Linked DNA regions of Homo sapiens. The protein of the gene in region 6 interacts with the protein of the main gene of each other region in a biochemical or structural test. Each region holds a gene or a part of one and is shown on either strand. Other genes may lie near its edges.

Region 1 (3,982 bases), on a different chromosome or scaffold from region 6:
GCCCCTATTGAGGAGCGTGAGAGCCCGGCAGCCCAGCCCCTGCTGGAACACCAGTACTGAGCTACCTGGCGCCCACTGGACCACCTCCTAGGATTCAGTAACGGACCTGCTCTGCTGCCTCTCTGCTGGACCACAGAACTGAGTGGCTTTGGCCTACATGTCTGAACCCTGACCTTTGGCTGCCTTGGCCAGAGTACCAAAACTGAGTGACCCAGACCTCTGACCTTGACCCCTGATCTCTCTCATCCCCAGTCCAGGGCCTGGGCTCCCCAGATGGAGGCAGTCAGCCTCCCAGCCAGGCCCTAAGAGCCAAACCATGGGCTGGTCCCACTTGGAGCCTGTGGCCAGGACCACCTCAGCCCCTGGGCCTGCACTGCCTGCAGGTGTGGCCCCCTTGGCCTGGACCTGGGGCCTGAATTGTGGGAAGGGTGGTTTCTTTCTTTCCTTTTTTTTCTTTTCTTTTTTTTTTTTTTTTTTGTGCTTCGGAGACATCAGAATTAATAACACTATTTTTGATTTTGGTTGGCAGTTTCTTTTTCTACCTGGGAATGGGTACATGATAGTACAGGCGGCTAAGTTGGGATGGACAAGCACGCAGAGGGGTGAAGGATGTGGGGCTGAAGTCTAGTAGAGATCAAGGGCAGACCAAGGTGGGGTTCAGGTAGAACCGGGTCCTCTTCACCGCATGGCTGCTCCCTTTTCAAGCCTTTATCTGAAGGGTATTGTCTGCCATTTCCCACCATATGGTCAGACTTCCAGGTCTGGTGGCTCCTACATTTATCAGGCTTGTTCTTGGCCAAAGCCTTTCTCTGCACCTCAGCTGCTCCAGGGCGTAAAGAGATGACACCTATCTAAGGTGTTTTTAGAATAAATGAGAGCGCGCTAGTGGAATGGTTGCCCAGGGCCCAGTGCTTAGCAAGTGCTCCATAAAATAGTGGCAGACTCTTGAGCACCTGCTGGCCGGGAGCTGGACGCTAGGTGGCCTCCGCTAGCCCTCCCGGTTGGTCTGGAAGGCAGGCACAAGTTTCTCAGGAGAGGAAATGGCCTTAGAATGAGCACTGCTCGGTGCTGACCTCCGCCAGGCCTGGAATCCCCGCTGCTGCGCTTCCCGCCGCAGACAGCTCCCGGCCGGCCCCGCCTCCCGGCATGGCCCCGCCTCCCAGCATGGCCCCGCCCCCAGGCGGAGCCGGCGCCGGGAGCGGTAGCGGGAGAGCGGCAGCGGGACCCCAGCGCGGGCGGCGGCGGCTGGGCGGGAGCCCCAGAGGTACTGGCGGGAGCAGGGGACGGGAGGCACTACTGTCGGGCCCGACAGGGGAGAGGTGGCCTAGCCGTGGGCCCGGGTGATGTGTATGGGAGTGGGGTCCTCGCCACGTTCGCCGCCAGCACCCTCCCAACTTCCCTCCGGGCTCCAGCTCAGTCCCGAGTCAATATGTCCAGCCCCCTGTCTCTGACCAGCCGTTCCTACTCTCTCTGTGTGACGGCTTAGCCTGGCCAGCCAGCCGGTGAGTGGAAGCGGCGGCTCCTGACTCCTGGTGGCGGCACTGTGACCCCCTCCCCCTCAACACTGCAAGTGTGTGCGGGGCTCCCCCTTATTCTGAGGCTCCTCTTCTTCTTAGGCGGCCTCCACCCCAGTCCCTGGCCTGGCCTGGGAGGAAACATCTGTCGCGCCCCCTGGCAGCCGAAATGGGGTCATGACCTCCAGATGTGCTGGGAAGTGGCCAGCTCCTCCTCCTGGGGCAGCCAGGCCTTCCGGATCTGTGGGGGCGGGGCCGGCCCTTTCCCCCCACCCCTAGTGACACAGGCCCGGAGGAATGTCCTAGCCTCAATGGACCCTGTGTGAAGCTTCAGGGTGGGGGGCAGAGCCCGAGAACACCCCTCAAGGCAGCGCCAGAGCCTGGCACTGGGCCACAGCAAGAGGCAGCGCACAGGCTGGGTGCACACATGCACAGATCTCACTTCCAAGCGTGCAGAGCTCAGCCCACAAGGAGCGGGGCTTGCACAGACCCCCTCCCTCATGCCCTCCTACTCCTTCACACACTATAGCCCAGGCCCGAGCGCTGAATGTGCCCAGAGCTTGGCTCATGGAGCCAGGGGCTACACCCGTCACACACACACATAGCTAGCGACACTCACCTCATTCTTCTCAGTCTCTCAGCAGCCTTGGGAGGGGACAGAAATAATTAAACCCAATTTTTTTCTTTGTTTTTTTGGAGACAGTCTCACTCTGTCCCGCAGGCTGGAGTTCAGTGGCGCGATCTCGGCTCACTGCAACCTCTGCCTCCCAGGTTTAAGCGATTCTCCTGCCTCAGCCTCCTGAGTGGCTGGGACTACAGGTGCGCACCACCACACCCGGCTAATTTTTATGTTTTTAGTAGAGACAGGGTTTCACCATGTTAGCTAGGCTGGTCTTGAACTCCTGACCTCAGGTGATCCCCCCGCCTTGGCCTCCCAAAGTGCTGGGATTACAGGCCACAGCCACCGCACCCGGCCAGTTAACCCCATTTTAGAGATGAGAAAACAGAGGCTCAAGGTCAGCATGGGAGTTTATTCAGGAGAAATCAAGGTAGAAGCACCTGGGCTGGGGAGCCGACTCTTGCTTGGTTCTGGAGGCCCCAGACGAAGGGTGTGTGGAGCCCCTCCTCCACCCCCCTCCGGCCCAGCCCCGCATGATGTTGCTGGATGCTGCATGAAGACCCACCATTAGATGCCTGTACCCCCAGTGGAGGTTCCCCAGCTCCCTGTCCTCACTGCCTACTCCATCCAGGGCTTGCCTGGGTGTGGCTTCCCTCAAGTTCTCACACCACCATTTGCACCTGCCTCTGGCGTCACGTTTCCGCACTTAGCAGGTCCCTGGGGCTTTGGGTGTCTCAATCTTGCATCCTGTGAGACCTTGAACCTCAGCCCAACACCCACCCCCCAAAACCTACGCACACAGACAGCAGTGGGCAGGTGCAGCCCTGCTTAGGGCCTGGAGATGGGCAGACCCAGGCTCACATCCTAGCTCTGACACGGAATTGCTTCAGGCAAGAGCATCTCCTCTGGACCTCATCTGACCATCTGTCACATGGGGTTCAGACCTCCCTGTCTGCATCAGTGAGACCAGGTAGGCAGAGGTCCCTATGGGTCCCTGTCATTGTGACTCCTCTTGCCCCCAAGCCTGGGCACAGTAGCCTGCAAGAAGGTGAGTTGGCCTGTCCTTCAGGGCAGGGTGACTGGGGTCCCATGACAGCTGCTGTGACCCCAGCACCTTCCTCAGGATGTGGGGGCCTGGCAGAGGGCTGGGCCCACAGTTGGGGCTACTTCCTGTGCTGAAGGAAGTCCTCTTGCCATTCCTGCTGCCCTGCCGCTGCCTCCCTGGGAACCCATGTGTCCTTGTGGTATTGAGGCCTTGAGGTCCAGGGCACTGAGATCAGACCTCTCTGGGTGATCAGCTCTCCAGGGACCCTGAAGGAAGTGGGAGGGGCAAGGAGGAAGGTCTCTGGGGACAGGACGTCCTCCCTTTGTTAAGTGGGCAGGACCCAGACACCAGTGGCCCCTGGGTTTCCCGTCCCAGCCAATACAAGTCATCTGTCCGGTTGGGCTAGGTCCTGGTGGGACCCTTACTCTGGGCCCAGGCCAAAGCTAAGGTGTGTGGGTGGCGACTGGGGGACCCTGGCAGTCCCAGGGCTGCCCAGGCTCCAGGACCCTCAGGACCAAGACCCAACAGCCCAGCCTCTAGCCTTGCCCAGCTAAGCTGGGGAGGGGGCTGGAAACTTTAGCCCTAGGCAGACAAGGAAGTGGCCTGGAAAGCGGAAGCAGCTTTGATGGTCTCGGAGGGGGCCGGAAGCCAACACGGGTGGTGGAGGACCAGGCTGGGGGCCTGGGTTCCTGTTTTCTGCCCAGGCCCCTCTGAGCAGCCCCCTCCTCCTTCAGGGCAGGAACTGCTGCCACAACCTCAGGCTGGGCACCAAACACCCGTGCCCGCCAATGCGGCCCAGCCCCC
Region 2 (3,500 bases), on a different chromosome or scaffold from region 6:
GGTGAAACCTCATCTGTACTAAAAATACAAAAATTAGCTGAGCATGATGGCGTGCACTTATAGTCCCAGCTACTCAGGAGGCTGAGGCAGGAGAATCGCTTGAGCCCAGGAGGCAGAGGTTGCAGTGAGCTGAGATTGTGTCACTGCACTCCAGCCTGGGCGACAGAGTGAGACTCTATCTTAAAATAATAATAATAATAATGATAATAATAAGAATAGACAGGGCACGGTGGCTCATGCCTGTAATCCCAGAACTTTGGGAGGCCGAGGCAGGTGGATCACGAGGTCAGAGTTTAAGACCAGTCTGACCAACATGGTGAAACCCTGTCTCTATTAAAAATACAAAAATTAGCTGGGCATGGTGGTGGGCATCTGTAATCCCAGCTACTCAGGAGGCTGAGGCAGGAGAATCAATTGAACCCGGGAGGCGGAGGTTCCAGTGAGCTGAGATTGTGCCACTGCACTCCAGCCTGAGCGACAGAGCAAGATTCCGTATATATATATATAATAAAATACATATAATAATGTTGAGAATAGGAAGATAATTAAACAAATCAGTAAACTGAAAACAAAATTATATCAGGCAGATAAATGACATGAGTGTAACATAAAAAATCTAGAATACATTGAACTTGTTTTTGTAAAATGGGAAAAAGACAATAAAAATAATATACTAATCACACTGTGATCTTTTACTAGTTATGAATCCATTAAGGACAGCAGTTCTGCTCATTTTTCTTTTTATTCTCAGTTTCAAGTGGGGTACTTGGAACATATTAGGAGTTCAAAGTGTTTAGTTGAATGAATATGTGACTTCAAGGCAAAATGATGTTAATAATCTCAAACTATGCTATGAGAAATGTTGCACAAGTTATACTATGGGAAATGTGTCAACAGCAGCCATAAGACCAAGGATAATCTCTACGATTATTCAGAATATACAGGTGTAATCACGCCATCCAGTACGCAAATAAAACTGATGGCTTACATCATGTCATCTTCATCCTATAGTGATAGCCTAAGTATTCAAATAGATACATTAATATTTTAGAGTAAAAAAAATTACTTATTGGGGAAGCTACCTCAGTTTGTTTTCAGCTGGCATATTGATAAGCAACACACATTTTTTACTCTTAAATTTCTGCAATTAGTTTGAAGTAGTGCCTGGGTCAACATTTGAATACTACTGTACTGTATTAACAATTGTCCCCAAGCTTCCCAAACTGGATATATTCTTAATGGAAAAACATTTTATTTATTCCCTCTGCTTCATTTGAGATGATCATTTGCTCTAAAAAATTACCATGATAGAGATGATGGATTAAACCCTTTGATTTTGTTTTCATCTTCATTTATGGTTACACATTAAAAAAAGAACAAGCAACATATCAAATGATGTAGTTCAAATTGTTGGCCCTACCTGCTCCACCTCATTGGCAGTGGGCTGCATTGCTTCATTATGCTCTTCTTCCAACATCTCCAAGTTTAACTCCTCTAAGAATTCATTCCTTTCATCTTCCAGCCAGCCTTCATCCAGCTGCAAAAGAATACATTAGTACATTATATTATGTTAGTGAGAACTCATGTTAAAATAGAGTAAACTTAAATGGCCGGTGCCCGACGAGTTCCTTTTATCATAATGATTCTCTTCAGAATACCAGCCTCCCACAGTTCACCTCTCAGAAAGAAGAAAAGGTGATAAAAAAAAAAAAAAAGGACTCTTATGCCTTTTATCCTTTCCTGAAATGGGACTACAGATTTTCTCTCATAACCAAGTAAATCTCACAGCACAGAATATTACCTTCTTTCAAAATGTATGAAAAGCATCCTGCATAATCCACAGCTGTCATGCTCATTACCTCCAACAGTCCCGTGTTAAAAGGACTGCCATGCTACTAATTGGGCTATGAGACAATTGGGCTGTTTTCTTTAACAACAACCCCCAACGAGACTGCACACAAAGTTCCCCCCATACGCTCGTGCTATCCTCATCCTGCTTTTTTCTTTTTAGGTGGGCTCCCATGTCAACAAGATGGCTGCTTGCCACAAAAGAATGTACAGAAGACATTTATTTTGTCTGTGAAGAAAGGAAAATTCTAAGTTATTCTTCTCAAGGAAAGGAAAGAAAAGCAATATTACTCCATGTCTATTTTAATTTGTTTTCAGGCCCAATTTTATAGGAAAAACACCTCAGTGGATGCGACATTTAAGGGTGGTGGAGTGGTGTGGGGCATGCAGGGTTTTGTTTATGGGTGTTGAAAACAAGTATTCTTGTAGGACTCTTAATGCAAATTGAACTGAACAAATCCCTTCGGCTTTTCAATACAAAGTGAAGTGGAAAACTGGTGGTTACCTGGCTAATATGATCTAATATGATCAGTGTTGACAGTTACTACAGATAATTTGCCTCAAAGTGGATTTTTGGAGCTGGATTACATAAATTAGCTGTCTATGCTGATTAAATTAACTGGATTATCGTCAAAACTCTGCATCACCCTGTACAAAGAAATAGCATTCTAGTGAGCAAACATGGATAATAGTTTGAGATATTTTCACCACCAATGAACTGGCAAAATAAGCTTTTAAACATAACTGAACTTCTACAACTTAAAAACAAACTGGAAAGGACATTCAGCTGCACCAAAAGAGGCATTAGCATACAGGTATCATCTTTATTAATATGCAGGCAAATCATAGATTTCATGATATCTATTAAAGGCCATGTAGAACTTAAATGACCTCAAACTTAACTGGGGCCCAAAGTGCTGGCACATTTGTTCATCCTCATTTATCTTAATGTCGCCTGAATAATTTGATCAAATTCCTGTGACTTTGATATGCAGATGAGCTATGAAAATTATGCCAAGTAAAAATGTAAATTCAGCCCAATTTATAATTGTTCAAATTTTACATTCTTTAATCTTTTTCAAGTATCATAAAGCTACAAATGCCAGACATCATAAAAAATTACTTAAAATGGGGAGTGCTTACTATTCACAAACACATCAAGGAATTTTTCTTTAATCAGGTCAAAATAAAGTATTTTCTAACACTGATATATTGAATGATGAAACAGAGTCCTTTGAGGATTAAATGAAGTAGTGGGGAAAATAAAGAGAAAATGGTCAAAATTAATGATTCCCCATAACTCTTTTCTTATTGAGTAATCCAGTAGATTCCTGAGTTGCCAGCCATAGTCATTATATGTCTATTTTGATAAGGCTTTCTTTTAGGCTGGAGGTGCACACAGCACAATTAGCAAAGGGAGATTCTTCTTGCTCACTTCCTTCTTCTCTCCTATTTCCCCCTTTCTACCTAGATGTACATTCACTATGGTCTGAGTCTAATGTAACGGCAGAGACAGACATCTCCCTTGAGCTGAGCTGCAGGAAAAGAGGGATTGTTACTACTAAGAGTGGGGATCTATCTGCACCAAAGGGGGCCACATGTGGCATCTCAGAAAAAGGAACAACCTACACTGTCTCAAAGGTAGTGGCTAC
Region 3 (3,500 bases), on a different chromosome or scaffold from region 6:
TGCAGCTCGCTGCACTAAAAGTGGAAGATATTTTCCATTACAGCAAGTGCTCCCACAGAAGGATCACGAGCCACACACGGAGCCTTACTCTCCAAATAGGCGCCCATGGCCCAGTCGTCCCTTAGCCTAAGAACTCAGAGAGCCAGGCTGTAATAATGGGGCTGCCGTGTGAGCACAGCAGCCATCGAGCTGCTCCGGTTCATTTCCCAGAGGTTGAGCTGCAGTGTGTCCAGTATTTAAAAGTATGGAACTTGTTTCAGGGCTGACCCATTCTTGCCCAATTCATCTTCCCCGTGTGAAGTTATTTAGCAAACAGCCAAGTTCAGCTGGAAATCGTTTTTCATCCCCTCCAACTTCTAGTCACATGGGCAGCTGGCCAGCTACATGTTAACAAGCGCCTCAGAACTCCTAAGACACCACCGGCCTCTGTTCCCTTCAGTGCATTCTTGTAAATAAATAAATAATAAAACCTGCCTTTACCACCCCCTCCAAGGTGTGGATCTTGTAAAAAGCGTGACCCAGTTTTGCAATCTACAGAGGCAGCTTGGGGAGCAGTTGTAAATCTTTGTCAGGCAGGTGTTACCTCTATGCATCCCAGCTTTCAGAAACAGAGCTGATGCTATTCATCATGCTGCGGAAGGTACAGACACCCCCTTCTAGTTTTCATCCTAGGTGCAAGTCAGGGCCCCAACATGGGCACTGTCAGTATGCAGACCTCTTTCAGCCACTGGAGGAGGGAGGTGGGGTCAATGAACCTGAACCTCCTGGACATGCGCCACACTGGTCTGCACCGGATTGTGGGCACCAGGTGGGATGTGTGAGTGGCATGCCTACCACTGGTCCCGGGCACCCACAACCAACATGGCTGGCCAACATCCGCAACAGCAGAGGGGGCAGACCTAAGTCACAAGTTATTCATTTCACTCCCACCCCCAACAGGCAGAATGCTTTAAGGGAATTAATATTAGGAATAAAAATGCTTTCTTCCTGGTGGGAGGTGAGGATGGAGGAAATCGTTATTTATTGAAGAACTATGACATACCAGGAACTATGCTCCATCTATGCTGCACATATACAATACAAACACAAGATACACATTTTTCATCTATAAAAAGCTTAGAATAGTGCCTAGCACATACCAAGTGCTATATAGTGTTAACTACAGTCGATGATGTTATTATCTCAAATTCTCACCATAGGGTAGGCATTATTACTGAGAGAACACATAGCTAGAAGAAAAGTGAAACCAGAATTCATTTTTTCCAGGGTACTGCTGTTAGGCAAATTTAAAAAAAAGTATGTAATAGTCAAACAGATTTATGGAAATGTAAAAACAATTTGTGGAAAGATTTAATTCACTACAAAAGTTCCTGAATAATCAGTCATAGGAAAGGGGCTGTAACCTGAAGCGTAAATCAAATACTAGTAACCTGTGAGTTACCAATGTGCTTTTCAACAGATACCTCAAATGTACATGTTAATAGAAAAGTATAAGCTGGGCACAGTGACTCACACCTGTAATCCCAGCACTTTGGGAGGTTGAGGCAGGAGGATCGCTTGAGCCCAGGAGTTTGAGACCAGCCTGGGCAACAGAGGGAGACCCCATCTCTACAAAAAAATACAAAAATTTCCAGGTGGTGGCACACACCTGTAGTCCCAGCTACTTGGGAGGCTGAGGTGGGAGGATCACTGGAGCCCAGGGAGGTTGGGGCTGCAGTGAGCCCTGATGGCGCCATAGCACTCCAGCCTAGGTGACAGAGAGAGACTTTGTCTAAAAAGGAAAAAAAAGGAAAAAGAAAAATAGATTTTTCATTTACTGTGAACAAGATATATTAAACTACATATATCCTATCATGCCAATTTTGAAAAGAGACAGAGGTGATGTATATTTTAAGACTAGAAGGAATAACATCAAGATATTCACACTAAGAAGGTTGTATTGTGTATGAGCTTTATATTCCTCACACGATAAGAATCTAAGAAAAGAAACATCATCCACACACAGTCACACATACCCTGTTCAATGTGAAATTTATTCTTTCTCCTCCCTGCTCTTTCTCCTGTATCCCTGTGCTGCTCAACAGCTTCACCACCCACCCACCATCCGCAGCATAAGCCTAGGAGCCATCCTGGACTGTTTCTCCCTCAACTCCCATGGGTGAGCATGTTCACACCTCAAGCTGCCTTCCAGCCACACCATCTCCTGCACCAGCCCTCTGCCTGGCCTACCACCTCCCTTGGTACCCAGAGGCTGGCCAGCCCAACCCACCCACCAAGGCAAAGGCTGGGTTCACCTTTGGTATGCAGGAAGTCAAGGGCAGCAGCAACGTCCCGCACCACTCGGCTGGCTTCTCGCTCATTGAAGTGCTTTTGCTTCTGGATGTGGGCTAAGATGGAACCTGGGGAGCAGAGGGGACATAGAAGAATGCCTTTTTGGGCTCTAGTAAGTATAAGTTTTTTTTTTAGACGAAGTCTCACTCTGTTACCCAGGCTGGAGAGTAGTGGCACGATCTCGGCTCACTGCAACCTCCGCCTCCGGGTTCAAGCGATTCTCCTGTCTCAGCCTCCTGAGTAGCTGGGATTACAGGCAGGCACCACCATGTCCAGCTAATTTTTGTACTTTTTTTTTTTAGTAGAGATGGGGTTTCACCATGTTGGTCAGGCTGGTCTCGAACTCCCGACCAAGTGATCCGCCTGCCTCAGCCTCCCAAACTGTTGGGATTACAGGCGTGAGCCACTGCGCCTGGCCGTATAACTTCTTAGAGGCCAAGTTTTCCCAAGTTTGGAAAACTTGGGGTGGGGACATAGGGATTCATCGCTGACTCATCACTACCTGTCCAGCTCCAAGTGTGGGGCCTGGTACGGAGGAGGTACCAGCTTGTATGTCTGTTAAACAAAACTGGACTACTCTCTTCTGTACCTGTCTATGAGGAGCTCAGAAGCGAGAGAGAACAACTATAAATAGGGCCAAAAAACACTAATGATGCTGAGGCTGATTTGGCTTCTGCAATCAAAAGGAATAAAACTGAAGGCACTTGGAGCTGAGGGGGCCTTTCTGCAGCAACGTTTTCTCCCCTGCATCTGATCTCTGATCCAAACAAGAGCACAAACTTTCAAATGGAAATGCCACACCCTTGCCAGACATGTAAAGGCCTGGGAAAAGGGGGGAAAAATGGGTTTTCCGCCTGAGCTTTCCCATTCATTATTGTTTTGTTGGCAATGGCTAACATTTACTGAGTAGTTACTAGTGCCATGTGCTATGGAATACTCTTGAAATAAACTGTCTTATTCTCACCACAATTGGACAAAATGGGTAGTACACTTATTCTCGTTTTACAGAGGGAGATCCTGAAGCCAAAAAGAAAAATGGTTGAGCAACTTGCCCAAGATTACGCACCAGTAAGGGGTGAGGCCAGGACTTAGGCCCAGGGCGTCAGTCAGGCCTCCGAGTCTGTGCAGACATCCCCCAGCAGGACTTGTGGTCTGACTGCTGCAGGGAT
Region 4 (3,500 bases), on a different chromosome or scaffold from region 6:
ATTACATCCATGTAGCATGACATTTAAAAGTTTTATACTGTGCACATGCTCATAAAATTTCCATTAACCTGCTTTACACTACCACAAGAAAATGGCTTTTCACTGAATTTGGAAGGTGCATGTTGGGTGGTCTGACCTAAAATTCAGGCTATGTGGCACAAAAAAAATTTGCTGTGTGGCTGCTAATAAATTAGACAGTCATTCTCCAGAAGAGGTTTAGGTTTGTGATAGAATCATTTCACACTTGAGGAATCACAGGCAGCTTGTTCAAAAGAAGTACTAGCAGGAATTTATTTAATAGTCATTACTGACTCCCCTGAGCAACAAAGGACTGGCAGCAAATGTATGTGCATGAATGTACATGGGTGTGCACACACATTAATATCCATTTAGGATATGATATGGCTTGGATGTTTTGTCCCCTCTAAAACTCACATTGATATGTGACCTCCAATGTTGGAGGTGGACCTAGTGTGAGGTGTTTGGGTCATGCAGGCAGATGTTTCATGAATGGCTTGGTGCTGTCCTGGCAGTAATGAGTGAGCTCTCACTCTGAGTTCACAAAAGATCTGTTTAAAAAAGCACCTCCTCCCTCTCTCTCTTGCCCCCTCTCTCACTATGTGACACACTGGCTCCCCTTCACCCTCTGCCATGACTGTACGCTTCCTAAGGACCTCACCAGAGGGAGATACTAGCACTATGCTTCATGTCCAGCATCCAGAACCATGAGCCAAATAAACTTCTTTTCTTTATAAATTACCCTGTCTCAGGTATTTCTTTATAGCAACACAAATGGACGAATACAGGGTATTAGGAAATATCCTAAAATATTAGCAATAATTTTCTAAGTAGAGATATTTTAGAATTACACTAATACGGTACCACTAGACACACAGGCCTATTTACGTAAAATTAAATACTATTTAAAATTCCTTCCTTCAGTCACACTAGTCACATTTCAAGGGCTCTATAGCCACAATAGCTAGTGGCTACTGTATTGGACAGTGCAGATGTAGAACATTTCCATCATTACATAAAGTTCTTTTGGAAAGTGCTGTTCTAGAAGTTTTCTTCATGTTCTTCTTTATACTTTTTCCAAATTTATTACAATATGCATTGTAGTATATTCCACTTATTAACAGGAATAAAAACACTATGAGAAAAGAAAATGAGGTTAAGAGAGGAAACATTACACTAGAGGTGCAGAGGACACATTCTGTGGAGAGAATCCTGGGGATATCATACTAGGTGGGGAAAAGCAGGTGGTTACACAGGCACTCAGGGAAGAACAGGAAAGGCTAAAAAGAGACATGAGAATAATAGACATTCCAAGGTAAGAAAGAACACAGAAATTCTAACAGCAAGGGTGGGGAAGGAGGCAATTAGCAAGAAGTTACAGGTTCTTGTCTCTCCCCACTCACCAGCCATTACAGCTGCTGACCGCTGAGCTGGCTCAAAAGGACATTTCCCCCGGCCACTCTCAAGTCTTTCAACCTGCTGGAACCTGGACACATCCTATAGACCAGAAGGGGGCAATTGGTTTAGGGGTCATAGGGAAGGTTCATGGTGAGAATTACAAAGATGGTCAGATGAAGGAAAAGGTCAATTCCCATTCCTCTCCCCTTCCACTCCCTACCCCCAACTATCATCCCCATATTACCAGTCAGCTATTCCTGATGCCCCCATCTACTCCTGCATTTCTCATCTCTGCTATCCTTTGTTCATCAGTTTATTCCTCTTCCCTCAATTCCCCCAGCAGCCAACACCCACATGCCCTGATGAAGAAATTCCTAGGACAGCCCAAGAAGCACCTAAGAGGCTGAAGGTAGGTCTTTCCTCTGAAACACTGCTGAACTGTAGGGTTTGTAACTGGCTGGAGAATATGCTACATGACAAGAAGGATCAGGAAGAAAGCAGGCCTCCTGAGGACTGGAAACCTTAGAAAGGACAAAGAAAAGTGCAGGCTGATAAAGGACCATCTGAAACCCAGAGGCCTAGAGAGACAAGGGCCATCCTCCTCCTATTCCCCACCCCAAGGATGAAAGACAGAGCTGCATCATACGACCAAGGGCAGAGGACAGGGGAACCAGCAAAGTCAGTAAAGAATGACCTGAAGCTCAGGTCAGAATGTGAGAGTTTGGTAGTAAGTACCTTCCTCACCCAGGGACTCCAGAGGGACTGACATGGGCAAGGAACAAGAGGTGTAAGAGCTTCATCAGGGCCAGCCAGAAGTTACCTTAGTCTAGCATTTGGCACTAAGAGAGGCTTCAAGATAACATCTAAAAACAAGGATGATTTCAACCTAGGACTGAGAGGGAAGTTAACAGTGGCTGGTTGAGAGTCAAAGTTATGGCACGGAAATGCCAGGGATGATATCTTTAGTTCACAAACTGGCGTGGGCATATGGTGTCATTGGAGCCTAATTACTTCCATGGTAGCTGTTGCAGAAATATCGATATATATCCCCTGAAAAATAAGTGTACTACTGGCCCACTCCGATTACTCATCTCTTGTTCTAGATGGCAAACAAGATTCTATTTTACTGAGAGTCTGGAAGAAGGCCTGTTAAAACTTTTGAAGTCCCCAAAAACGGAATGCTGGGTCAGAAGAGTCTGCTGGAATGGAGGACTCCACAGAGGCACAGCACTCCAGCTGTGTGACAGTGGGAGCATCCTCACCTGAGAAGAAAGATGGGTTTGGTGAGAGATTAACAAGATGGTTGGGCACTCTAGAGATGTGGTACTTACCTGCTGCTGCTTCCCTTCTTACCTCTCACCTAAACCATGGCAGTAAACTCCTTTCTCCACATCATCTAGCCACCCCCACCAACCAAGTTATTCTAATACCCACCCAAGATTAATCTGAAGTATTGGTCACTGACTTAATAATAACTTTTTGTGCAAGAGAATGAGAAAATAGTCCACCATTGCCTGGAGTACAACCTCATCAGCCAAACCTACTTATTTTCAACTACTTTTCAAAATGACCTTTGTTCTATCCAAACCAGATCACCTGTTATTCCTGGAAGACAAATAATGTTTTCTATGCCTATAACTACTGCCTTACATTTCTCCAAGGACTAAAGGGATGAACTTTTTCTCAGTTCTCATTCTCTTTAACCCTTATGCACCATTTGATACTTTTGACTCACTCCCTTCCTTGAAATATTCTATTCCTTGACTCTCCTGAAACTCTGCCCTTCTGGAATCCCTCCTATCTGTTATTTCTCCATTTCCTTCTTCTTCTTTCTAGCTCCCACATGTGTATCCTAAGAATCCACCTTTAGTAGCTTTCACATATGCTTCAAAGATCTCATTCATTCTTTCCAGCCAGATATTCTATGCAAATCATTCCCCAAACTCTCCAAATCTGATATCTTCTAAACTCTAGCCCATATTTTTATTTGACTGCTGGACTTCCTCACAGAGATTTCCTATCTGCCCCTTAAAACTCAATATGTTGAAACTAGTTCTTTTTCAGTTTTCCCCAGCAGCATCATC
Region 5 (3,500 bases), on a different chromosome or scaffold from region 6:
CACTCACCCTGACATTTAAGACACCCTCATGGGCTGGGTCCTACCAGGCTCTCAAGCCTCAATCCTGCTTCCCACAAATCTTGAACGTCCCATTCCTCCGAGCATTTCCTGGAAAGTCGTGACTCTGGGGCTTTGCTCATACTGTTCTGTCTGCTTGGAATGCCTCATTCACCCTTACCCTTCCTTTCAAACTCCTACTCATCCTGCAAAGCCCAAACTCAAAGGGCCCAGAGGCTTTCCCTAACTCCCAACCTCAAACTACTGTGTCACTCTGCAGTCCCAGGCACAGCTCCCCAGAACCCTGTATTAAAAGTATTTGTTTACTCAGCTGAGATCTTCAGGGACCTGAATATGTCCTTGGTGCCCAGCAAAGGGCCTGACATGGCTTTTATGGACAGAGTGATGGCATGGAGGAGCTAGTGGGGTAGTGCAAGTACCCAAGGCACTCTGAGTGGCCTCCCAGGCTCTAACCCCTCAGTCCCTCTGCCCCAGGGCCCCCACACTGGCTGTGAAGGGGCTGCCTCATCCTCCCTCTAGGGATCCCTTCAGGTGCTCAGGCCCCAGCTTGGGTCCAGAAGCCATAGCCCACTGTAGCTCAGCCAGAGCCACATCCCAGCTGGAGGAACCCAGGCCCAGAGAAGTCACCAGGGTTTGAAGCCCAGCCTCGATCAGCTCACAAACACCACAGCCTCTTCCTAGGAACCACCACCCACCAACCTCCCCCTGCCCAGGGCCCACATTCCTCCATACCTGCCAGGAGCCACAGGTGGCCCAGGAAGGTCCACAGAGCCCCCGGCTCCATTGCCATGCCCTCCAGACAGGTTGAGAGTGGTGGGCGGGCACTGAGGCTGGGGAAGTGGGGAGGAGGCAGAGCTCCCTGCCTGGCCCAGCTGCCTCCTTCGGAGCCTGCTCAGGAATGCCAGGCACTGGCCTCCCCCATGCCCAGCATGGCCTAAAGGGAGGGAGGATGGGCAAAGAGCCCAGCCCTGCAGCTGGGGTCCCCCCTCCCTGGCTCTGACCTCAGAGGTCTGCCCTCCCTGTCACCCAACAGTGAGCTCAACTGGGAGAGGAGCCGGGTTCCCGCTGATAGTGGTGAACCTGGGGGATGACACCCCCTCATCCTCTCAGCTGTAAGATGGGGTTTTAAACCCCTGCCTCATGGGGCTGTGGCAAGGAAAAAACAAAATGCAGAGCAAATGCTTCCCAGAGGCCAGACGTGCTGTGTGGGCCCACTGTGTGCCAGGTACCCAGGAGGCCATGGCTCTTGGAGCAGGACTTGGGGAACCTCGGCCCATGGAGGCAGTGGATGGGCCTTCGGGACCCCCAGGAGTGTCAGCCATCCAGGGCTGGGGGACACTGAGTCCCACCATCTTCAGGCGAGTGAGAGAGGGGAAGAGGTGACCACCATCTCTTTCCCCTGGTGGAGGAGCCTGTGCCCAGGAGCCTGCCAGGGGGAGGAGGCAGTGTGCCCCAGCAGGAATGCGGGCGGGTGTGAGGGAGGTGTCGCAGGCATTCCAGAGGGGGCAGGGACGTTCAGTGTTGGCGGTGGAGCTCCCTGGGCTCACCGGGGTCCTGTGTCTGTGCATCTGCGTGTACCCAAGGCAGGGGCAGACTTCTGAACCCCCAACTCCTGCCTGACAGGCCCCAGCTCCCCAAAGGTCAGAGTCATCCTTCTACAGATGCTGCCCCCTAACTCTCTGCAATAGCCCCCCTTTCCTTCTCTGTCCTGGCTGAACCACCTCCGTCTTCCCTGAAGACCATCCCTCCACACGTTCTCCCAGACAACCTCAGCCCACTATGGCCCCAGCTGCCAGGACTACACTCCTGAGCCCCAGTCTCACCTCCAAAGCGAGTCCCAGTTCAGCCACCCTCAGCGGTCACCTGGGCCACCATACCCACCTCCTCCCTGATCTCCTTGACCCCATCAATCCACACATCCAGACAGAAGGGACCTTCTCACCTGAGGACCACCAATTCTGATGGTCCCAGGGCCCACCCCACCCCAGACACCTGCGTAGCCATCTGGGCAGTGACACTGGAAGCCATTGGGCAGGTCCTGGCAGTGGCCTCCGTTGAGGCATGGCCGTGAGGCACACTCGTCCACCTCCACACCGCAGTCGGCTCCTGTAAGAGGCCCAGCTGTGGGTCCCACCTGCACCCTCAGAGCCAGGCAGGGGCTGAGAGGGTCCATTCTATAGCTAGAGAGACTGAGTCCAAGAGAGAGGGCAGACTCGGGTGTGGGGTGTGGGGTGGGGGGGTGGGGGGGGTGGGGGGGTGGGCACAAGATCCCTCCCTGGGCATCTGGACATGGGCTGACCGCTTCCCCAGCAGGGGCTCACCCTCAAAGCCAGGAGGGCAGTGGCACAGGAAACCCGCAGCATGGCGGAAGCTGAAGGCGCCAGGGAAGGCGGCCTGGACACCCCCGTAGAGGGCCGGGTCAGAGCGCTGCAGGCATCGGCCCCCATGCTGGCAGGGGCTCGATGCACACTCGTCCTCGTCCACCTCGCACAGCTCGCCGCTGTAGCCTGGGGGCACACACACGCGGACATCAGGTCTCACGGGGTTGCCGGGCAGCACCTCTTCACTATGACCAGGCTAGCGAGGGCCAGCAAGGGACCGCAGCTCGGAATAAGCCACGAATGGCGAGGGAGGGACACACTAAGGGCCGCAGGAATGACCACGGCAGCCTTCAGCAGCAGTGGCCTATTACTGCTATTACTAGTCTTACTACTAATTTTTTTTTTTTTTTTTTGAGATAGAATCTCACTCTGTTGCCCAGGCTGGAGTGCAGCGGCATGATCTCTGCTCACCTCCACCTCCCAGGTTCAAGCGATTCTCCTGCCTCAGCTTCCTGAGTAGCTAGGACTACAGGTACATGCCACCATGCTTGGCTAATTTTTGTATTTTTAGTAGAGATGGGGTTTCACAATGTTGGCCAGGCTGGTCTTGAACTCCTGACCTCGTGATCCGCCCGCCTCAGCCTCCCAAAGTGCTGGGATTACAGGCTTGAGCCACCGCGCCCGGCCTAGTCTTACTACTATTACTAGCATTAATTACTGAGCCCTTTGCAGCTGTCAGGCCCTCCCCAAGGGCTTCCCAGGCGTCGCACCTTCGAGCTCCCCGCAGCAACCCCAGGAGCAGGCGCTACGATCAGCCCTATTTTGTAGATCAGGAAACTGAGGCTCCGACAGGTTGCAATCACACACACACTCTGGTCCCGAGGACCCAGCGGGCACTCGCGTGCAGCCACACACCTGCCCCACCGCCCCAGGCCGCACAGGCGCACACCTACCCCTCCCCCCGCCAGGCCGCGCACCTGCACGCACACACCTGGCCAACAGAGGCAGCGGAAGCTCCCGAGGCCCTCGAGGCAGGACGCGTTGTGCTCGCAGGGCGCCGATGCGCACTCCAGCACCTCCCGCTCGCAGTGCGTGCCCTCGTAGCCGGTGCCCGCGCAGTCGCACCGGAACCTGGGGAGGGCGCACCGGCGGAGCTGAGCG
Region 6 (3,635 bases):
CCCCAGTCCACCCAGCCAGAGTGATACCCACCTGAGGGCACCGTATTCCAGGGCCACAGGCTCCTCCAGGTCTTCCCATTCACTCCCACTCTCTGGGGACTCTTCTGGAGGCAAAGACTCTGGGACAGTGCCCCAAGAGCAGAACTGTGGCAAGGGAATGGTCCCAGAATCTGCCTCCAAACATTCTTCACAGGGTAGCTGGCCTTGGCATGTAGAGTTGATGGTAAGATACTCTTCATCCTCCGAGGTGGGAGAAGGGGCTCCACATGGATGGTACATGTCACCTTCCCCATCCTCCCCATCCAATTCAGGACTAGAATACAGAAGCCCATGTTTCTTCCAGCCTTGATAAAAAAAATTCCTCACCCCACCTTCCCCTTGCCTTTTAGAATACTCTGCACGACACAGGCCCGTGAGACTCAGCCAGTGTTCAAACAGCTCATGCCAGAGGCTGCTCTGGGCACCAGGAAGCAAGAAACTTATAAGGCACCAACCCTGGCTTTGAGGAGCCCCCAATTTAATGAGAAGTTGGAGCAGTAAAGAAATGTTACAGTCCATGTAGGAAGTGCTATGATAGAAGCAGCTGGAGCACCTTACCGAGCTCAGGAGACCGGGGGGATGGGGGGGCTTGCCAGAGGGCACAGCATTGCAAGCAGGGCAATGACCCAGTTCTAAGACAGACTCGTCACATGGCAAGCAGAGTCGGTCAGACTTTGGACAAGTTTATTGACTTCTTTGGAACCTCAGTTTTCTCATTTGACAAAACTAGATGGTCAAGAAGCGTCTAGGATTATTGGGACACGTAAATTACATAATTCTGACACAGCCCCCCCAACTCTGGGTTCCTGGTATGGGGTAAGTTTTTAGTAAATGTGAGATGCTGTGATTAGTACTGTGAATATGATGGCTATTTCAACAGAAGAATTATAAAGAAAGGGCTTCAGGAAGGGATTGGGAGTGACTCAAGCAGGCAACCATCAAAGCACTTTGTGCAAAGATCAGGTCCTTTTCTGAGCACTGAAAATTTGCCTATTTAGAGATGCGGCAAGCTGAAGTGACATTTACTCCCCGCGGAAGGACACAGGAGGCAGACGAGTGGTGAAGCTCATTATCTGGTGATGCAGCCGCAGACGTAATGGTCAAAGAACAAGACTTCCAGGGGCTGCCCCAAGTTCGCCACACACGCCTCTTGATTAGAAAGAATAGTCCATGCAAAGGTAGGGCATTTTACACAGCACTGCAGACATGCAGAGAAGGTGCTCAGAAAATATCTGTCGAAAGTCTGGTTAGAGGAGATGAGAAGGAATATCTAAGAGAAAAGCACAAAGATTTAGCAAATACATGGATCCTCATTTCTCAGCCTCCTTACCCCCACCCAAATCAATGGGTTGGCTTTATTATGTGCTGCTGCTCTCCTTCTCCTTTCCTGCATTGCCTCTTTCTCTTAAAATTGGCTCTGGTGCACCCCAATAGCTACAAACCCTTAGATACCCAGAGAGCACGTCCTCCTCCCCAGTAGAGCCGGAAGCATCTGTCCCAAACTGAGCTTCACTGTGAAAGAGACATTATTTCCACTCATGAGAGCTACAAGGTATGTGAAATAGTGAATTTCATGTAAATATATGCACACTCAAGTGTATAAAAAAGAAATTATTCTACAAAGACTGAAGAGGAACACTCACTGTCAAAAGACATTTTTAATTCTTGAGCATTTGCAGGGAAAATTGACTTTAAGCTTGGCTAAATCATGTAGAAACTGTGTTTTCTTATAAACATGGGAAAGAAACATTCAAGAAGTTTTATCAAAGAATGGGAAATCTAGCCTATTGCCCAGGCCTAGGCTCACCACTGTCCCCACCACCTCAAGCAGCACCCCCTTCCCTCCGTTCTGAGCTCACTAAGCCTTGTTGAGGAGTGGAAGATGGCAGCTGTGTGTGTCCATTGGCCACTGCAGCTGCCTCAGTGTCCACACCTCACCTCCCACCCGTAGACTCCCTCCACCTCTTCTAATAAGCTCCTTGCCCTCTGGTTTTGATTCGGAGCTCCAGCTACTGGCTCTGCCTGGACAGAGACCTAGGGAAGCCATCAGCCTGAGAGGCAAGAGGCAAGGCTTCATCTGAGGTTCAACCAAAGAAAAAGCGATTTGCTCCCCACTTGTCCAGGGGGACTTGGTGGTCCCAAGGGTGAAATCTTGGCCATCATCCCACCACAAGTTGGGAGAACGACTGCCTTTCCTTCTATCCTTTTGCACGTGCCATCAGGCTGCCCTTGGAGATTTGACCTGGGGCTCAACTGTGGACATAGGGAAAGGGTGAATAGGGAATAAAGAGGCACCAGAAGCCTGTATGCCTATTTCACGGAAAGGGCAAGACTTGGAAATTTGGAGAATTTCATTAAGATAGAGACATTCTTTCACAGCAAGCCTCATGTTTTGCATGTGGACATGATGGGTAAAGAGGTGGAGTTCTTCACCCAGGGTTCAAGGCCGGCCAGCTCATGGCTAATGTAGCAGGACTTTCAGCAAGACCCTGATGCTGTCGGAGTACACGGGGCTCTCTGCTCACCCCCTGATTCTGTGTAATGATCTCAGCTTCTTCCTGCCCTCACTCTCTGCCCACCAAGCTGTCCAACAGAAGGAGGCTTTTATAGACAGATGATAACTAGAGGAGAATCTGGAGATTTCACGTGGGCTTCCTGGCCAGCCATGTCTCCCATACAAACCAGCAGGACCCCAGAACCAGGGTCCCCACCAAGTCCTGAAACTCTTCAGTGGGTATTTTTAAGAGGAATCCCAGTTCAGCTCTGAAGTCAGTGAAACCATTCTGAAGGCTCTGCTTGCTACAGAATGTTTACTGAGAAAAGACACTGTGCCCAACTTTTCTGGACAGCTGTCCTTTAAAGACTTGGGCCACCAAATTCATCTCTGCCTTTCAGGAGGAAATTCATAGAAGCAGATTGGGCATTTCAGGCTTGAAATATGAAGGTATTATAATTGTCCTATTTACTTACGGTTAAACTCACAACAAAGTTTGGGGTTTGTGTCCCTTCATGTCTCCAGTTCTCCAACATCAGGCCCCATATTGAGGTCTCCATTAGCCCTGATGACACAGCTGGGAGCCCCAGGTCTCTGCTCCTGACAACTGCATTTAGTTTTGGCAGGTTGGATTTACAGTATCTCTAAGACATCAAAGTAAACAAGTTCAACGGACTGCCAGATTTGAAGCTCAGATGATAAATCTGAGCTGAAGTACAATACTTAGGATTTGTCACAGTAGTGTGGACAGATACCCCTGGGTATCTGGGGATACCCAAGGATAGCCCTGGGAGCCTGTAAGGTGTAAAGAGAATCCTGCTAGAGGCAGCACCCAGGATCCAGCCCAGGCTCTGCTGCCTCCCTCACTCCCCTCAGCCACACTCCAACCCAAGAGCAGGCATGACATCTCCCTCACCTGGCAACTGCATCCCTCCCTAACTACTCTGACATCACACCTGGCCTGGCCCCTGCAGTTGAGTGAGATCTCTGGCCTCCTAATTATCTTTTGCTATTCCAGGCAGTGCCCTTCCCCAGAAGGTATATCATAACTTTAGGTTCATTTCCAGGAGTCCTGCTTTATTTTGCTTTCTTAAATAAATGA
Region 7 (3,500 bases), on a different chromosome or scaffold from region 6:
CCCTTGTGTACCACTCTGAGCACTGCATTCGCAGCTGCTGGGACACAGGTGGGTGCCTGCGGAGGACGGCAGAGGGAACACAAGTGGTTCCGGGTGTGGGGGGAACAAAGAAAGGCCTTTTCTTCAGAGGCCAGGAGAGCGACCTCAGGGCTGTAACGATCTGAGCAGAAGGGCAAGGGGTCATGGGCAGCCCCCTCCCAGCAGGGCAGGCTGCAGAGTCCCAGAGCTGGAGGAAGACACACCTGGCTTCCAGGAGAGAGCGTGTCAGTGATGCACAGGGAAGCACTGGGGAAATCACCTCTTTGAGCCTCACTTTTTGTCTTCCTAAACTGGAATTAATAATATCTGCATCTGTGTGATGCCTTCAGCATTAAAGGAGGCACTGTGTGTGTTACACGTCCTCACTAGGTGCGGAGCAGGGCAGAGTGGGCGCTTGCCAGGGCGTGCACAGCCCCAGGCACCTGTGCCGAGTCTGCTGTAGTGCTTTGCCCTGCGTCGGCATCCCTTGGGCCCCCATCTGAGGTGATCAATGCACCCAGAGGGTCTCCAGGGCTCCCTTCTGGGCCCCTCACAGGGTGGCCTCTTTACACTGATGTCCTCCAGCCTTATCTGTGCCCTAATCTCCCTTCGAGCTGCCACTGGGTGATCATCTATCTGTCCCATGAATCGGTGGTTCCCCCTTACCTATGGGGGATGCTTTCCAAGACCCCCAGCGGATGCCTGAAACCAGAGATACGACTGAACCTTACATACATGATAGTTTTCCTATATGCGAATAACTATGATAAAGTTTATTTTATAAATTAGACACAGTAAGATATTAACAACAATGAATAATGAAGTAAAACAATTGTAACAACGTACTCTATAAAAGTTATATGAACTAGTCTCTCTCTCTCTCTCAGTATCTTACTGTACTGTACCTTAGGTAACTGAAAGCTCAGATCAGGGCAAGAGATTGTATCTCAAAGTCACCCTCTTCCCCATAGAGATTCTTCCTACATCCTTCCTCTTGATCTTGTTCCTACAATTCTACAATGAACATGAATTGCTTCTGCAATAATGAAATAGGGCAAAGACAACTTATTTTTAAACTTGTAAGTGAAGAGTAGCCTATTCTTCTGACTTAAAAGGCCAAAAGAGTAAGAGAAAGATAGAGACAGAAAATGAGAGAGACACAGAGAGAGAGAGAGAGAGAGAGAGAGAAAGACAGCAAGTAGTGCATGACCTGAGCCTCCCTAGCATCTACTCCAGCTGTGTTAGTGAAGTCCCACAGGGAGAGGTAGAGGCTGCCCCTGCAGATGCCCAGCCCAGGGAGTCCTCCCGTGACAGACAGAACTGCTAAGGAACCAGGACTGCCAACGTAGAGGAGGATCAGAGCCCTGGGAGCAAGGGGCAGATTCAGGCAGGGAGAGCAGAGGCAGTGGGCTTCAGCCCCTCAACCTCCAATGGGCTGAGCTCAGGTCACAGGGTGACTTCCATGGGCCAAGGTGCTTTACCTTATGGGTCCCTTCTCCTCCCAAATATTAGAAATCATATTGTATAGCTGCACTGGTATAAAGGCAAATGTACTATTTGATCTTAGAGGTTCATTTCCTTCCTTCTGATTTTAAAAGAAGCTCTAATACTGTTGTGGGCCTCTAGAAGCACTGTGGTCTCTGAGCACTGCGTCTGGGGTCAGGCCCTGGCTGAGCTTTCAATGTAGAGGGGGAAGAGAAGGAGGTGTGAGGGGCTGGTAGGTTCTCTGGAAGTCACATCCACTTGCTAGTTTCGGTATCATCACATGCAAAATGGAGATAAAAATACCTCCCTGGGGCTGCCAGAGGGCTAAATGAGATGGCGTCTGTGGAGTGGAGCCTCATCTCTACTCTCTGAGACAGGGCTACTGTCACCAGATGAGGAGGATGGCTCAGGATAGTGTAAAGAATCAGTGACAAAGAAAAAAAAAAGACTATGAAAATTTTTTAAAAAGGGAATACTCAGGATTTTCAACCATAACTGAAATTAATTTCGCTAAAATGAGAAGTTTTGCCGAAGTTGAAGGAAAGGGATTAATATGACAAATCCATCCAGGGCATGATCAAGCAAGGCCTGGCTCCCCTCCCAGGAGTTTGGGACCTGGAAAAGCTGGAAAAGGCTGAGAAGGAGCTTTCTCCAGAGAGAGAGAGAGAGAGAGAGAGAGAGAGAGAGAGAGAGAGAGAGAGAGACCAGAACCTTAGAGAGACCCAGCTCCAAGCCCATTCAAAGGGGAGCATGAAGGAAAAAGGAGAAATGACTGCCTAAAGAAGACATTGAAAGGTAGAGCGCATGAGGGCCAGGTGAGCCGAGGGAAGGAGGCCCCCGGCTTCACACTCAGGGGAGGGGCACTGGCAGACAGGGGAGAGGTCAGGGGCTGAGCTGAGAGGAGCTTAGAGTGCACCAGGGTCAGGGCCTTGCCCAGGGCAGGGAGAGGGTGCAGTGAATGCTGGGGCCCAGGGCACTCTTTGCAGACCTTGTTTGCCTACATGGATGGACCTTCACATCCCTCCATCCGTTTGCTGACTCATTCACTCATTCCTTCACTCATACGGTGCTTTCAAAGAGCCTACTCTTCTCCATGGAGAACCAGATGGCCCAGGTATGAGTGGTTGAGGGGCTGGTGCCCCGATGAGGTGGGGGCAAAGATGACCTCTCTCCAGGGTGATGTGAGGAAATGGAGCTCCGGAAGGTAAGAGGCTTGCTCCCCATCACACAGCTGGCGTGCGTGGCCAAGAGCAGGGCCTGCGTGTGTTTTCTGGGCTGTCTCCACCGCAGTGCTGACTCTTGGATAAAAACATGAAGGAGGCTGGGCGTGGTGGCTCATGCCTATAATCCCAGCACTTTGGGAGGCCAAGGTGGGCAGATCAGGAGGTCAGGAGATTGAGACAATCCTGGCCAACAAGGTGAAACCACATCTCTACTAAAAATACAAAAATTAGCTGGGCGTGGTGGCACATGTCTGTAATCCCAGCAACTCGGGAGGCTGAGGCAGGAGAATTGCTTGAACCAGGGAGTCGGAGGTTGCAGTGAGCCAAGATCATGTCACTGCACTCCAGCCTGGGGACAGAACAAGATTCCATCTCAAAAGAAAAACAAAAACAATAAAAACCATGAAGGAGCAGCATCGGGAGCGAGAGGGCCTTTCCCTGGTCTCTGTGGGACCACACAGATGCAGATGGCCCCCTGTCATTGGGTATGACTTTCAGTGGCAAAGGGGCAAACATCTGAGGAGTCTGGAGAGCAAGGAGGGAGCAGGGCAGTGGGGAGGAAGCTGGCGTTTAAGCACACACGCACACACTCAGTGAGCGGAAGCAATTAAGCACAATTATGAGCACATACCAGGCACTACACTAGGATGTTTATCTGTGAGAATGCACTGAATCCTCCGAACAAAGCCCTGAGGTAGAGACTGTTATTAGCTCCATTGACAGGTTCAGGACTAGCCGTAGAATTTGCAGAGCCCAGTGCAAAATAAAAACATG

The links.
Region 1: the proteins of FRMPD2 (region 6) and SIPA1 interact in a test that uses a peptide from one of them, tested with the Homo sapiens proteins (one large-scale study listed by IntAct).
Region 2: the proteins of FRMPD2 (region 6) and PDZRN4 interact in a test that uses a peptide from one of them, tested with the Homo sapiens proteins (one large-scale study listed by IntAct).
Region 3: the proteins of FRMPD2 (region 6) and MKNK1 interact in a test that uses a peptide from one of them, tested with the Homo sapiens proteins (one large-scale study listed by IntAct).
Region 4: the proteins of FRMPD2 (region 6) and SEMA4F interact in a test that uses a peptide from one of them, tested with the Homo sapiens proteins (one large-scale study listed by IntAct).
Region 5: the proteins of FRMPD2 (region 6) and CRB2 interact in a test that uses a peptide from one of them, tested with the Homo sapiens proteins (one large-scale study listed by IntAct).
Region 7: the proteins of FRMPD2 (region 6) and GYPC interact in a test that uses a peptide from one of them, tested with the Homo sapiens proteins (one large-scale study listed by IntAct).

Annotation. Positions count from the first base shown.
Region 1 is NC_000011.10:65,636,919-65,640,900, forward strand, and holds the start of SIPA1 (signal-induced proliferation-associated protein 1), read left to right. Parts: upstream 1-1,182; 5' UTR 1,183-1,264; exon of another isoform or gene 1,265-3,912; 5' UTR 3,913-3,982. Other genes in the region: PCNX3 (pecanex-like protein 3), read left to right, coding at 1-60. UniProt on the Homo sapiens protein: GTPase activator for the nuclear Ras-related regulatory proteins Rap1 and Rap2 in vitro, converting them to the putatively inactive GDP-bound state. Affects cell cycle progression.
Region 2 is NC_000012.12:41,565,820-41,569,319, reverse strand, and holds part of PDZRN4 (PDZ domain-containing RING finger protein 4), read right to left. Parts: intron 3,490-3,500; exon of another isoform or gene 3,014-3,489; intron 1,538-3,013; coding exon 1,421-1,537; intron 1-1,420.
Region 3 is NC_000001.11:46,569,769-46,573,268, forward strand, and holds part of MKNK1 (MAP kinase-interacting serine/threonine-protein kinase 1), read right to left. Parts: intron 2,400-3,500; coding exon 2,295-2,399; intron 1,772-2,294; coding exon of another isoform or gene 1,649-1,771; intron 488-1,648; exon of another isoform or gene 1-487. UniProt on the Homo sapiens protein: May play a role in the response to environmental stress and cytokines. Appears to regulate translation by phosphorylating EIF4E, thus increasing the affinity of this protein for the 7-methylguanosine-containing mRNA cap.
Region 4 is NC_000002.12:74,660,747-74,664,246, reverse strand, and holds part of SEMA4F (semaphorin-4F isoform 1 precursor), read right to left. Parts: intron 1,516-3,500; coding exon 1,422-1,515; intron 1-1,421. UniProt on the Homo sapiens protein: Probable cell surface receptor that regulates oligodendroglial precursor cell migration. Might also regulate differentiation of oligodendroglial precursor cells. Has growth cone collapse activity against retinal ganglion-cell axons.
Region 5 is NC_000009.12:123,366,197-123,369,696, reverse strand, and holds part of CRB2 (protein crumbs homolog 2 precursor), read right to left. Parts: intron 3,471-3,500; coding exon 3,331-3,470; intron 2,526-3,330; coding exon 2,340-2,525; intron 2,125-2,339; coding exon 2,011-2,124; intron 919-2,010; exon of another isoform or gene 809-918; coding exon of another isoform or gene 751-808; intron 1-750. UniProt on the Homo sapiens protein: Apical polarity protein that plays a central role during the epithelial-to-mesenchymal transition (EMT) at gastrulation, when newly specified mesodermal cells move inside the embryo.
Region 6 is NC_000010.11:48,156,062-48,159,696, forward strand, and holds the end of FRMPD2 (FERM and PDZ domain-containing protein 2), read right to left. Parts: intron 1,310-3,635; coding exon 1,261-1,309; 3' UTR 501-1,260; downstream 1-500.
Region 7 is NC_000002.12:126,662,658-126,666,157, reverse strand, and holds part of GYPC (glycophorin-C), read right to left. Parts: intron 1-3,500. UniProt on the Homo sapiens protein: This protein is a minor sialoglycoprotein in human erythrocyte membranes. The blood group Gerbich antigens and receptors for Plasmodium falciparum merozoites are most likely located within the extracellular domain.